Linked DNA regions of Homo sapiens. The protein of the gene in region 1 interacts with the protein of each later gene in a pairwise test. Each region holds a gene or a part of one and is shown on either strand. Other genes may lie near its edges.

What was found. Proteins that work in one complex are often made in the same cells at the same time.
Region 2: the proteins of TMPRSS4 (region 1) and BNIP3L interact in binary tests that used the Homo sapiens proteins (3 or more experiments, as listed by UniProt).

The regions. Positions count from the first base shown.
Region 1 is NC_000011.10:118,108,073-118,115,102, forward strand, and holds part of TMPRSS4 (transmembrane protease serine 4), read left to right. Parts: intron 1-783; coding exon 784-824; intron 825-1,979; coding exon of another isoform or gene 1,980-2,161; exon of another isoform or gene 2,162-2,325; intron 2,326-3,668; coding exon 3,669-3,828; intron 3,829-5,196; coding exon 5,197-5,363; intron 5,364-5,850; coding exon of another isoform or gene 5,851-5,978; exon of another isoform or gene 5,979-5,993; intron 5,994-6,756; coding exon 6,757-6,855; intron 6,856-7,030. UniProt on the Homo sapiens protein: Plasma membrane-anchored serine protease that directly induces processing of pro-uPA/PLAU into the active form through proteolytic activity.
Region 2 is NC_000008.11:26,393,032-26,400,061, reverse strand, and holds part of BNIP3L (BCL2/adenovirus E1B 19 kDa protein-interacting protein 3-like), read right to left. Parts: intron 4,833-7,030; coding exon 4,760-4,832; intron 1-4,759.

The DNA.
Region 1 (7,030 bases):
TTTTAATACAATGGACAGCTGGACAAAGTGTGTTGTCCTACTCAGAGCCAGAGGGATGGATAATGTGACCTTTCCATCAATCTGGATAGTAAATAGTTTTTGCTACTGCTGTAGGTTTTCTAATAAATTGCCCAATAGGCAAGATTCCAAAGTCACTTTGTCCTTCCCTACCACTTACCCAGCCAGAGCTCCCCACCTTCTTGATGCTCCAGGGAAGAGGCTCCATGGCCCTTGTGGGTGGCCTGTTCCTGAGCCTCGCCACCCTGTGTTAGAGCAGAGCATCCAGATGAAATCTGTCACACTGTGGCAAAGTGGCTCAGAGAGGAGGCTGGCTTCCTAGCATTCAGGGACGTTGCTGAGGGCCGCTTATTCACCGAAAATAAATCTTGAAAAGGACAGGGCTGGTAGCAGAATGATCCTTTACCTAAAATTCTATCAAAATCCCATTCTTCCATTTGGAAAGCCCACAGTGTCACAGACTCTGTTCCGGGCTCTGTCCTCTTCCCTCTTGGGTCCCAGGAGCCCAGGCTGGGCTTTGAAGCAGGCAGGGCCCAGCACACAGTAGGTACTCAGCAGTGGGGGTGTTGAATCCAATCAAACGGAAGTGTCAATGCAGGAAATGCAATGGATGTCAATGCAGTCTCCAAATGTTCCCCACTGTGCAGCTTCCACATTCCCGAGGTATTGGGAGGGGACTTGAATTAACAGCTTCGGGAGGCCTGAGTCCCTGCCTCCCAGCTGAGGAAGAAGCTTAAATCACAGGGCGCTGTGTCTGTCTTCCAGGCCCTGTCTCTCAGGCTCCCTGGTCTCCCTGCACTGTCTTGGTGAGTACCCCCAATCTCTGAGGGTTTGGGGCCTGGGCCAGCAATGAGCAGGGAGGAAGACCTTCATCTTCACTCCTAAATTTCTGGGACTCCAAGTTTCATTCTGCCTTGGTCTACAGCCCTTGGGCTTGTCGGTCAATGCCCCCTCGAGTTGTTGGTGGCCTTGGGCAGGTCACATTCTTTTTCTGGGTCTTTCCAAGCCCCAGTTTCCCCCTTCTACCATCTGTGCATGGCTCCATGACCTAAGTGGAGACCTGGGAGAGAGTGTTAGGAAGACCGAAAAGGGCAGGACGGGGCCTCCACTGCCTCCCATCCCTGGTCCGGGCCCACATAGCCTTCTTTGTCACAATCAGCTCAGGTATCCAAGATCAGATTACCCACATTCATTATTTGAGCAACTATTCATTGAACAGTTAGAATATGTCTCACTCTGTCAGTTGCTGGCTAGAAGTAGAAAGTACCAGATGAGTGAAATAATTGGCCACTATCCTTGGTAGCTGATGACTAAGTAAGAGAGAGATGCAAGACAACATGTGGAAAATGCCAAACTGAGTAGCAGTCACAGTTGACATGCTGCAGAGAGAGCTGGCCGGGGGTCAGAAGACCTGGGCACCAGTCCTGTTCATTTCCAGTGTGGCCTCGAGTCATTCACCTGACCTCCCTGAAGTTCATTTTCCCAAGAAGTTGTTTAGTCCAACTGCCCATCAAGGATCTTTAGGGACCCTTCTAGCTCTAACAGAGGAGATCAGAAAAGAAAACAAGCAATGTGGCTCAGCTCATCCTACAAGCTTCATAGAGAACTGAGACTGGCCTGGAAGCATAGCCAGAAATTAGAACGCCTAAGGGAAGAAGGTCACAACGCTGCCTCTGCAATTTAGGAGTGTATATGCTTTCCTGCAGGATGTTGAGAGTTTCATTCATTATCGTATGCCCCCTACCCCGGCCCCACAATACCTAGTGCGTGGGATCTGACACGTGGTGGCTGGTCAATGAATGAATGAATGAATGGTCACACCATCTGAGGTTCTGCACTGAGTAGCCCTGAAGGCTTGAAGCAGCATAAGTGACAGGTCCTCCCTTGAGGGGCCTCTGTTTTACCAATAAGCCAAGACCTAAGCTCAACAACACTGAAAGGGTGGCCAATACCCAGGACAGCCTGTGGGAATTCCAGAGAAAGGGAGATTCCCAGGGACTGGGGGCCCAGGCTAAACACTGAAAAATGCATCTGTAGGCTCAAGGAGGAAAAGCCCATGTCTGTCTGTCTTGCCCACCACTCTCTCCCAGCACCCAGCACTGCCCCAGGACAGAGAGCACTTGACACAAGTTGGTTAGATTAATGAATGATTTAGAGTTCAGTGGTCCCCAACCTTTTTGGCACAAGAGACTGGTTGCATGGAAGACAATTTTTCCGCAAACCAAGAGGGGGATAGAGAGCATTAGATTCTCTCTTTTTTTTTTTTTTGAGACCAAGTCTGGCTCTTGTCACTCAGCCTGGAGTAAAGTGTTGCGATCTCGGCTCACTGCAACCTCCGCCTCCTGGATTCAAGCGATTCTCCTGCCTCAGCCCCCTAAATAGCTGGGATTACAGGCACCCGTCACCAGCCCAGCTGGGACTATAGGCATGTGCCACCATGCCCGGCTAATTTTTGTATTTTTAGTAGAGACGGCGTTTCACCATGTTGGCCAGGCTAGTCTCGAACTCCTGACCTCAGGTGATCTGCCCGCCTGAGCCTCCCAAAGTGCTGGGATTACAGGCATGAGCTGCCTCACCCAGCCTAAAGTCTCATAAGGAACGTACAGCATAGATCCCTCACATGTGCAGTTCACAATAAGGTTGTGCTCCTACAAGAATCTAACGCCACCTCTGATCTGACAGGAGGTGAAGCTCAGGTGGTCATGCTCGCTTGTCCCTGCCACTCACTTCCTAATGTACAGCCAGGTTCCTAACAGGCCACGAACCAGTGGGAAGGGCATCTTTTTGGATCAAAAACAGAATTACTTTTTAGAGAACTACAAGCAGATCAATTTGGCTAGACAGAGACTTTATATGAAACAGCAGGAGGCTGCTAGGAGGAGTGGAAACTCTACTTTGCCCTCAAGGGAGATCCCGAAGGGCTTTGCAGGAGCGGGCAAGGTGGCATGAAGAAAGCAGTGTTTGAAATCAGGTGGTATTTGAAAAGCCCAGCCCTTCCCCTTAGAATGGCCCTTCTACCATCTGTGCATGGCTCCACAACCGTGGTGGTGGCTGCCAGAAGAATTGGAAAGGCAGAGCATGGGTGGAGAGGGGGGACCTGAGGGCTTTACAGGAGTTCCGGGGGTGGTGAGGGTGTGAAAGCCAGGTCAGTCAGTAGGAAGACAGGATGTCAGATTGAGAGACTCCCCTGGCCGGGGAAACAGACTTGGAGAAGGGGGAGTTTTGGATGAGACAGTCCACTTCCGAGTCACAAAATAGCTTGTGGGTGTCTGTTTACTGTTACTCAGTGGGAGTGGCTGGGGACACGCCACCTGGGCAGGGCTTTCGTAATTCTGCATCACTTGTGAAGGTCACAGATTCCCAGCACAACGGACACACCCATGTTCATAGTCTGAACTCCTAAACACATCTTAAACCAAAATAAAAAAAAAAGAAAGAAAGAAAGAAAAAGGAGAGGGAGGTTTGAGGAAAGCCTATGGTCTGGGACACTCAATACCTCCCATGAATATCTCATATTGGGCTGGTCCTCTCTCCACTCTGGCCCCAGCCATAAGGGCCCTGCTTAGAGCAGATTTTGGGTGCTGAGTGGAGGCAGCCTCATCCCCAACAGCCTGACTTCCTGCCTCCTCCCTGCCTCTGCCTGTGTCCAGCCTGTGGGAAGAGCCTGAAGACCCCCCGTGTGGTGGGTGTGGAGGAGGCCTCTGTGGATTCTTGGCCTTGGCAGGTCAGCATCCAGTACGACAAACAGCACGTCTGTGGAGGGAGCATCCTGGACCCCCACTGGGTCCTCACGGCAGCCCACTGCTTCAGGTAAGACCCCAGCTGTAAGGAGGTCTCTGGGGACCAAGGCCAGTCAGGGACCAGAGAGCTTGGGGTCCTGTCTCCTGGCACCGTCCTTCTCTTCACTCTCCCACTAGAGACGTTTTCCAGGTTGTGGTGGCCCCAATGAGACAATGGCCATGATGCCCTTTGTTAGGCTTTTGGGTGTCTGAGCAGAGGGTGCTGGTCACCAAGCATGGCCTCTTCCTGGTGGGACACCAGCAGATACCCAGAGTCCTCACCCCACCCCCATATCGTTCAAGCTACAAAAGCTCTTCCCACCTGCCTCAACTTCCAAGAACTCACTCTCTTTTTGCTTGTTTCCAGGAAGTTGTTCCAGGGTCTAGAGTCATAGCCACGTCCTCATTATGTCTGGAAACTTTAAAAAAATTAAAGAGCATAGGTTCCTTTCAGTCCACAGAGAAGCCTGGCCTTACCTCAGGGAAGGGCTACTCCCAGACCCCCTTCACTTTTTTTTTTTTTTTTTTTTTTTTTTTTTTTGAGACAGAGTCTTGCTCTGTTGCTTAGGCTGGAGCGCAGCAGCATGATCTTGGCTCACTGCAACCTCCGCCTCCTGAGTTCAAGCAATTCTCCTGCCTCAGCTTCCCAAGTAGCTGGGACTATAGGCATGGGCCACCATGCCCGGCTAATTTTTGTATTTTTGGTAGAGACAGGGTTTCACCATGTTGGCCAGGCTGATCTCTAACTCCTGACCTCAAGTGATCTGCCCACCTCAGCCTCCCAAACTGCTGGGATTACAGGCATGAGCCAGGGCATCCGGCTTTTATTTATTCATTCATTCAATATCTAATGAGCACCTACCAGGTACCAAACACCAGATGATGCGCCCAAGTTCATTAGACCCCACCGCTGTCTTCAAGGCACTCATGATCTAGGCCAGCGTTTTTTAACCACTTTTTTTTTTTTTTTTTTTGAGATTCTGGTGAGAGCTATAAATTCTTTCCTGGAAAAACATCTCTGCACACTAAGCTGTGCCTGGCATTGGGAAAAAGAAAGCACGTAATGTAACTGACAGCATGAGTAACACAGTGAGAAAGGTTGGAGGAGAGAGCGCCAGGACCTCAGAACTCAGGCATTAGAGGAGCCCCTTCCCCAGCCCTCCTTGAGGTTTCGTTGGGCAGGTTTCACTGAGGAAAAAGGGTCAAATCCCTTTTTCGAATTTGACTTCTTGTAAGTGCCAGAAGACTGCCCCTTCTCCACCATCCCTGCCTCACCATCATCTTTCCTCCCAAGGCAGTGACATCCAGCACCCCGATCCCTAGGGCCCTGGGGACCCAGCCTTTGGCAAAGTCTCCTCAGGCTTGGATCAGGCCTGAACCCAGCTGTCTCTACCCCCAGGAAACATACCGATGTGTTCAACTGGAAGGTGCGGGCAGGCTCAGACAAACTGGGCAGCTTCCCATCCCTGGCTGTGGCCAAGATCATCATCATTGAATTCAACCCCATGTACCCCAAAGACAATGACATCGCCCTCATGAAGCTGCAGTTCCCACTCACTTTCTCAGGTGAGAAGCAGGGCCCAAGGCCACTCAAGCCTCTTACATCAGTTTTCACGCCCACTCTGCTATTAGCTCACTGACCGCCCTTGGCACATAATGTCTCCTCTCAAGTCCTCAGCTTGCCCATTTGTCTCTAATACGTCAGCCTAACATCACTGATGCCATGAGGCCTCCTCAAGCTGTCAGCTAACACCTCCACTCCATTCCCTGCCAGAGATTCTTCCAAGGCCTGTCTTCCCTATGTGGAGCCCCTCGAGTGAGAACTGGAGTTTCATCCAATCTTGGAGTTTTAGGAGACCTTTTAAAAAGATTATCGAGCTAATTCCCCACCACTGACCAACACGCAAGAGCCTGCTCAGTATCCCTGCCAAGGAGTCATTGTGCCCCTGTTTGCTCTCCTCCAGGGGCAGGGAACCCATTACCTGTGAGGCAGCCCACAGAGTCTTTGAACAGCTCTGTTGGATGCCTTGTGCTTATACTGAAATGTATTTAGATCAGGATTCCCAACTGTGGGGTCCACAAGACACTGGCCCCTTGGAGAAGAGAGGATTCCATTGTCAAATAAGTTTGGGGAACATTTTCATACTACAGCTCCCTTCTTGGAACACATTAGTTTATTAAAGGTAGGAGAAGTTTTTAAAATAATCTGTTTTATTGCGTTTAACCTACATTTTTTAAATTTATTTGACCACAGAATCCTTTTTTCATGCTACTTCTATTAGCATCCCATAGAACAAGTGTTCTAGAGACCCTGGTGTGACCCCTTTCAGAGAGCTTAACTGCCAGGCTCTCCTGAGCCCTGGTGTGTGTTTCAAGATTTGTGCCTGGGAATTGTTTTAATCAGGTATGGCAAGGTGACAGATACAGACACAGCTATCTTTGAAAGAAGAGTTTATTATTTATAATTCCTGAGAGAAAGGGACATACCCCACCCCCCAACACAGGGACACCCGGGGAAGCAGCTGGGTCCACCAGGAGGCAGGAGTGAGGGGAAGGCATGGCCCAGAGCCACCTGTGGCTTCCATGGGCAGGTCTGGCCAAGGTAGGGTAGGCAAGATTGAGCATGCTCAGGATTGGATAGTGTGGACAATTCTCTAGGCTATAGATGTCAGCCTCTGGTTGTCTAGTATCTGTCCCTGGGGTGATTTAGGGCAGGGAAAATATTGGCTTGGTGTCTGAGAGTCAGATAAAGGAAGTGGTTGGGGATATGGGCTTTGGGTTGGCTGGTTTGCCTATTAAAGGCGTGCCCAAAGCCAAGTTGTTTACTATCTGCAGGAATTAGCTAACCCAGTCTCTCCCAGACCAGCAAGATCCCCATAATCATAAAGCATCATAATTTACAGAAAATTAACACTTATGATGAATAAAAGATCTCCTTCTTCCTCTGTGCTCCTGGCAGGCACAGTCAGGCCCATCTGTCTGCCCTTCTTTGATGAGGAGCTCACTCCAGCCACCCCACTCTGGATCATTGGATGGGGCTTTACGAAGCAGAATGGAGGTAAGTCCTGGGTGCAGGACCACAGGGCAGGAGATGCCCTTGTATGAGGGAGCAGCTTCCAGAAGTAATGGGAAGGAGGACCACCCTTCAGAGAAACCCATCCTGGAGGACCAAGCACCAAGGCGCCAGGCAGAAAGCAAAGTGGTTTGGCAATCCAGGGCTGGGGGATAGAAGG
Region 2 (7,030 bases), on another chromosome or scaffold:
GTTTTTTCCAATTCTGTGAAGAAAGTCATTGGTAGCTTGATGGGGATGGCACTGAATCTGTAAATTATCTTGGGCAGTATGGCCATTTTCACGATATTGATTCTTCCTACCCATGAGCATGGAATGTTCTTCCATTTCTTTGTATCCTCTTTTATTTCCTTGAGCAGTGGTTTGTAGTTCTCCTTGAAGAGGTCCTTCACATCCCTTGTAAGTTGGATTCCTAGGTATTTTATTCTCTTTGAAGCAATTGTGAATGGGAGTTCACTCATGATTTGGCTGTTTGTCTCTTGTTGGTGTATAGGAATGCTTGTGATTTTTGTACATTGATTTTGTATCCTGAGACTTTGCTGAAGTTGCTTATCAGCTTAAGGAGATTTTGGGCTGAGAAAATGGGGTTTTCTAGATAAACAATCATGTCATCTGCAAACAGGGACAATTTGACTTCCTCTTTTCCTAATTGAATACCCTTTATTTCCTTCTCCTGCCTGATTGCCCTGGCCAGAACTTCCAACACTATGTTGAATAGGAGCGGTGAGAGAGGGCATCCCTGTCTTGTGCCAGTTTTCAAAGGGAATGCTTCCAGTTTTTGCCCATTCAGTATGATATTGGCTGTGGGTTTGTCATAGATAGCTCTTATTATTTTGAAATACGTCCCATCAATACCTAATTTATTGAGAGTTTTTAGCATGAAGGGTTGTTGAATTTTGTCAAAGGCTTTTTCTGCATCTATTGAGATAATCATGTGGTTTTTGTCTTTGGCTCTGTTTATATGCTGGATTACATTTATTGATTTGTGTATATTGAACCAGCCTTGCATCCCAGGGATGAAGCCCACTTGATCATGGTGGATAAGCTTTTTGATGTGCTGCTGGATTCGGTTTGCCAGTATTTTATTGAGGATTTTTGCATCAATGTTCATCAAGGATATTGGTCTAAAATTCTCTTTTTTGGTTGTGTCTCTGCCCGGCTTTGGTATCAGAATGATGCTGGCCTCATAAAATGAGTTACAGAGGATTCCCTCTTTTTCTATTGATTGGAATAGTTTCAGAAGGAATGGTACCAGTTCCTCCTTGTACCTCTGGTAGAATTCGGCTGTGAATCCATCTGGTCCTGGACTCTTCTTGGTTGGTAAACTATTGATTATTGCCACAATTTCAGCTCCTGTTATTGGTCTATTCAGAGATTCAACTTCTTCCTGGTTTAGTCTTGGGAGAGTGTATGTGTCGAGGAATGTATCCATTTCTTCCAGATTTTCTAGTTTATTTGCGTAGAGGTGTTTGTAGTATCATTTTTTGTCTATTTGATTCTTCTCTCTTTTTTTCTTTATTAGTCTTGCTAGCGGTCTATCAATTTTGTTGATCCTTTCAAAAAACCAGCTCCTGGATTCATTGATTTTTTGAAGGGTTTTTTGTGTCTCTATTTCCTTCAGTTCTGCTCTGATTTTAGTTATTTCTTGCCTTCTGCTAGCTTTTGAATGTGTTTGCTCTTGCTTTTCTAGTTCTTTTAATTGTGATGCTAGGGTGTCAATTTTGGATCTTTCCTGCTTTCTCTTGTGGGCATTTAGTGCTATAAATTTCCCTCTACACACTGCTTTGAATGCGTCCCAGAGATTCTGGTATGTTGTGTCTTTGTTCTCGTTGGTTTCAAAGAACATCTTTATTTCTGCCTTCATTTCGTTATGTACCCAGTAGTCATTCAGGAGCAGGTTGTTCAGTTTCCATGTAGTTGAGCGGCTTTGAGTGAGATTCTTAATCCTGAGTTCTAGTTTGATTGCACTGTGGTCTGAGAGATAGTTTGTTATAATTTCTGTTCTTTTACATTTGCTGAGGAGAGCTTTACTTCCAACTATGTGGTCAATTTTGGAATAGGTGTGGTGTGGTGCTGAAAAAAATGTATATTCTGTTGATTTGGGGTGGAGAGTTCTGTAGACGTCTATTAGGTCTGCTTGGTGCAGAGCTGAGTTCAATTCCTGGGTATCCTTGTTGACTTTCTGTCTTGTTGATCTGTCTAATATTGACAGTGGGGTGTTAAAGTCTCCCATTATTAATGTGTGGGAGTCTAAGTCTCTTTGTAGGTCACTCAGGACTTGCTTTATGAATCTGGGTGCTCCTGTATTGGGTGCATATATATTTAGGATAGTTAGCTCCTCTTGTTGAATTGATCCCTTTACCATTATGTAATGGCCTTCTTTGTCTCTTTTGATCTTTGTTGGTTTAAAGTCTGTTTTATCAGAGACTAGGATTGCAACCCCTGCCTTTTTTTGTTTTCCATTTGCTTGGTAGATCTTCCTCCATCCTTTTATTTTGAGCCTATGTGTGTCTCTGCACGTGAGATGGGTTTCCTGAATACAGCACACTGATGGGTCTTGACTCTTTATCCAATTTGCCAGTCTGTGTCTTTTAATTGCAGAATTTAGTCCACTTACATTTAAAGTTAATATTGTTATGTGTGAATTTGATCCTGTCATTATGATGTTAGCTGGTGATTTTGCTCGTTAGTTGATGCAGTTTCTTCCTAGTCTCGATGGTCTTTACATTTTGGCATGATTTTGCAGCAGCTGGTACCGGTTGTTCCTTTCCATGTTTAGCGCTTCCTTCAGGAGCTCTTTTAGGGCAGGCCTGGTGGTGACAAAATCGGTCAGCATTTGCTTGTCTGTAAAGTATTTTATTTCTCCTTCACTTATGAAGCTTAGTTTGGCTGGATATGAAATTCTGGGTTGAAAATTCTTTTCTTTAAGAATGTTGAATATTGGCCCCCACTCTCTTCTGGCTTGTAGGGTTTCTGCCAAGAGATCCGCTGTTAGTCTGATGGGCTTCCCTTTGAGGGTAACCCGACCTTTCTCTCTGGCTGCCCTTAACATTTTTTCCTTCATTTCAACTTTGGTGAATCTGACAATTATGTGTCTTGGAGTTGCTCTTCTCGAGGAGTATCTTTGTGGCGTTCTCTGTATTTCCTGAATCTGAACGTTGGCCTGCCTTGCTAGATTGGGGAAGTTCTCCTGGATAATATCCTGCAGAGTGTTTTCCAACTTGGTTCCATTCTCCGCATCACTTTCAGGTACACCAATCAGACGTAGATTTGGTCTTTTCACATAGTCCCATATTTCTTGGAGGCTTTGCTCATTTCTTTTTATTCTTTTTTCTCTAAACTTCCCTTCTTGCTTCATTTCATTCATTTCATCTTCCATTGCTGATACCCTTTCTTCCAGTTGATCGCATCGGCTCCTGAGGCTTCTGCATTCTTCACGTAGTTCTCGAGCCTTGGTTTTCAGCTCCATCAGCTCCTTTAAGCACTTCTCTGTATTGGTTATTCTAGTTATACATTCTTCTAAATTTTTTTCAGTTTTCAACTTCTTTGCCTTTGGTTTGAATGTCCTCCCGTAGCTCACTCTAATTTGATCGTCTGAAGCCTTCTTCTCTCAGCTCGTCAAAATCATTCTCCATCCAGCTTTGTTCCGTTGCTGGTGAGGAACTGCGTTCCTTTGGAGGAGGAGAGGCGCTCTGTGTTTTAGAGTTTCCAGTTTTTCTGTTCTGTTTTTTCCCCATCTTTGTGGTTTTATCTACTTTTGGTCTTTGATGATGGTGATGTACAGATGGGTTTTCGGTGTGGATGTCCTTTCTGTTTGTTAGTTTTCCTTCTAACAGACAGGACCCTCAGCTGCAGGTCTGTTGGAATACCCTGCCGTGTGAGGTGTCAGTGTGCCCCTGCTGGGGGGTGCCTCCCAGTTAGGCTGCTCGGGGGTCAGGGGTCAGGGACCCACTTGAGGAGGCAGTCTGCCCGTTCTCAGATCTCCAGCTGCGTGCTGGGAGAACCACTGCTCTCTTCAAAGCTGTCAGACAGGGACATTTAAGTCTGCAGAGGTTACTGCTGTCTTTTTGTTTGTCTGTGCCCTGCCCCCAGAGGTGGAGCCTACAGAGGCAGGCAGGCCTCCTTGAGCTGTGGTGGGCTCCACCCAGTTCGAGCTTCCCGGCTGCTCTGTTTACCTAAGCAAGCCTGGGCAATGGCGGGCGCCCCTCCCCCAGCCTCGCTGCCGCCTTGCAGTTTGATCTCAGACTGCTGTGCTAGCAATCAGCGAGATTCCGTGGGCATAGGACCCTCCGAGCCAGGTGTGGGATATAGTCTCGTGGTGCGCCGTTTTTTAAGCCGGTCTGAAAAGCACAATATTCGGGTGGGAGTGACCCGATTTTCCAGGTGCGTCCGTCACCCCTTTCTTTGACTCGGAAAGGGAACTCCCTGACCCCTTGCGCTTCCCAGGTGAGGCAATGCCTCGCCCTGCTTCGGCTCGCGCACGGTGCGCGCACCCACTGGCCTGCGCCCACTGTCTGGCACTCCCTAGTGAGATGAACCCGGTACCTCAGATGGAAATGCAGAAATCACCCGTCTTCTGCGTCGCTCATGCTGGGAGCTGTAGACCGGAGCTGTTCCTATTCAGCCATCTTGGCTCCTCCCTATTCTGTGGTCTTAAAGCATCTATCTCAGTCTTTTTCTACTTATACACTCAAGAAACTAGCCTGGAGTATTGGCATGATTTATTATGGACAAGAATTTTCCAATTCGTTTAGAGTGACAGGGCCCAAAATCCTTAGTTGTAAAGGAGTGCGACAAGAACTATATCATCCTAAATAAATTCCAAAATCAGAAACTCAATAATAGCTTCAAACTATTCCTAAAAGTCTTCACATTTATTTTAGCAAAATATACTTAGAGAATTTACATCTTTCTTAATTGTTTACTGTAAATCAGAATCCCCCCGACACACCTGAGAGCTATGGTCCCTGCTGGTGTGCATTTCCACATCAAACATGATCTGCCCATCTTCTTGTGGCGAAGGGCTAGAAGAGAAGGAATTCAGCTATTAGTTTTAATTCTCACTTTGTCAAATGACTTAGTCTCTACTAGAAATTAGAAAATTAAAAGTTACAGCAGTATGGCTTTGAAAAAGCAAATCAGAGAATATATCATAACCCTATACAAGAAAAATTTATGTGATATTAAAAGGCTAAATGAAATTGAGCATTCTTACTCCCAAAATGTTCTGCACTTTTTCAGTAGTAATGAAATCCTTCAAAATGATAAATTTGCAAAGGAAATACTATCTACAGACACAAACTGTCACATTCTCTTATATTTACTCTTTTGTCCACTAAAGGTAAAATAATCTTCAAATTCAGGAACTTCAGAGTTCTTTTTCTCAAAGTTCCCTCATCATTAAATAATTCACCAGTAGTTCTCAAAGTGCATAAGGTAGTTCTCAAAGACGCTTTCAGAGGGTCTTTGAGGTTACAGTTCCTTTCTCAATACTAGTAGGATTTATTTGCCTTTTTCATTCTCATTCTCCCATGTGTATAGTGGAATTTTCCAAAGGCTACATGATGTGTGATAGCACAACAGTTAGAATGCAAACACAGATGAGAACCAGCTGTCTTCTATTAAGCTTGGTATTAGAGATTTGTAAATGTGTAAAACAATGCCACTATTCTTATTAACTTGGAGGGTTTATAGAAAATAGGTATTTTCACTAAAAAATGCTACTTATGTTAAAATGTATTATTTTTGAATGAATATATATTTTCTCAGTTTTAATTTCTAATATAGTAAATATCAAAATATATAAACCCACAAACAAGTTTTTTGGGGTCCCTAATGATTTTTAAGAATGTAAAGGTATGTAATGACCAAAAACTTTGAGAACCACTATTTTACTTATTTCAGAAATATTTGCTTTGAGATATTTCAGAGTGAATTATATAACTTATATATTAATATAAAACCTTTATGATTGCACAAAATACATTCTTAGAACTGTAAAAATTTACAAATAAGTTTTTAGACAAAAACAACATGATCACAAACTGCACTTGATACAAGAGATGAACAGAATGTGCTAAGTTAATTTCTTAGCTTTATTAATGATTTCTTGTATAAAAACTGAAAGTCACTGGGGATCCTTCACTACATACACAAACCCTCCCCCAAAATCTAAAATAGAAATAAAAAATATTTGGGGCTTAACTTGCTGAAAAGAATAGATATTAACTATTAAAGTTATCAAGAGTATGTATATAATGTTAATTAATGTATAGAGACGTTGGTGAGACTGACTCAGAAATAAGATCGTCAGAAATTTATCAGACAGATTAGGCCTAGGAGTCTTTTAGACTAGTATAATTGACATAGGAGATTTTTAAATGGGGACAGGAAAACAGAAAAGCTGGTTCTGTATCAAACCAACGTCATATATATTTAGGAAATTTTTGTCTTGAACTAGCACAGGAGTCAACCCGAACTGGGCACTCCTACTGGCCTCAGTTTACTATCTTTGTGCTCATAACTGTTGGGTTCACAGCTACACATCAAGTTAAGGGTCAGCCTTACATAGCCGTGACCAGGTCAAGGCAGTCAGGGTGACAAAGTCAAGAATCCTATGGAAGCATTGCTCTGCTTCTATATGCTTCTTCACACTGGTACCAACCTCTTCTCTAAACTGTTTACTCCTCCTAACAATTTGGAATGCATTAGAGCTTCACCCATGGCACATATTAGAATCGGCTGGGGAGCTTTTAAAATATTGTGACGTCTCTACCCTGCCCCTGTCAACCAAAATGAGAAGTTCTTGAGATGCAGTCCATGTGCTGCCATTTTTAAAAGCTTCTGGGTGAATCTAGTGTGCCGTCAAGGTGAAAACCCCTGTGACAGGGTGAAAGGCAAAGCAGAACACACTGGGGTTCCCAGCTAACAACCCCTGCGGCAACACAAATATTTCTATGGAATAATTTTTAAGTTGAAAATATACATAAATCAGCTCTAGGACTGATACCCAACAACCCTAAAACATTTCCCCCTACAAGAAACACTTTCCAATTACTTTTCACATATAGAGACGCATGGCAATTCAGATGATGTGAGTTTTGAAGACACTCCTCAATGGTAAAGCGTGTTAGTAGGCTATCCCAGAAGACTCGAGTTCTAGCCATTCTCTGAAAGATGACCACTAATCTAGGGCCTGGAGAGACATAAGATGAGGGGTACG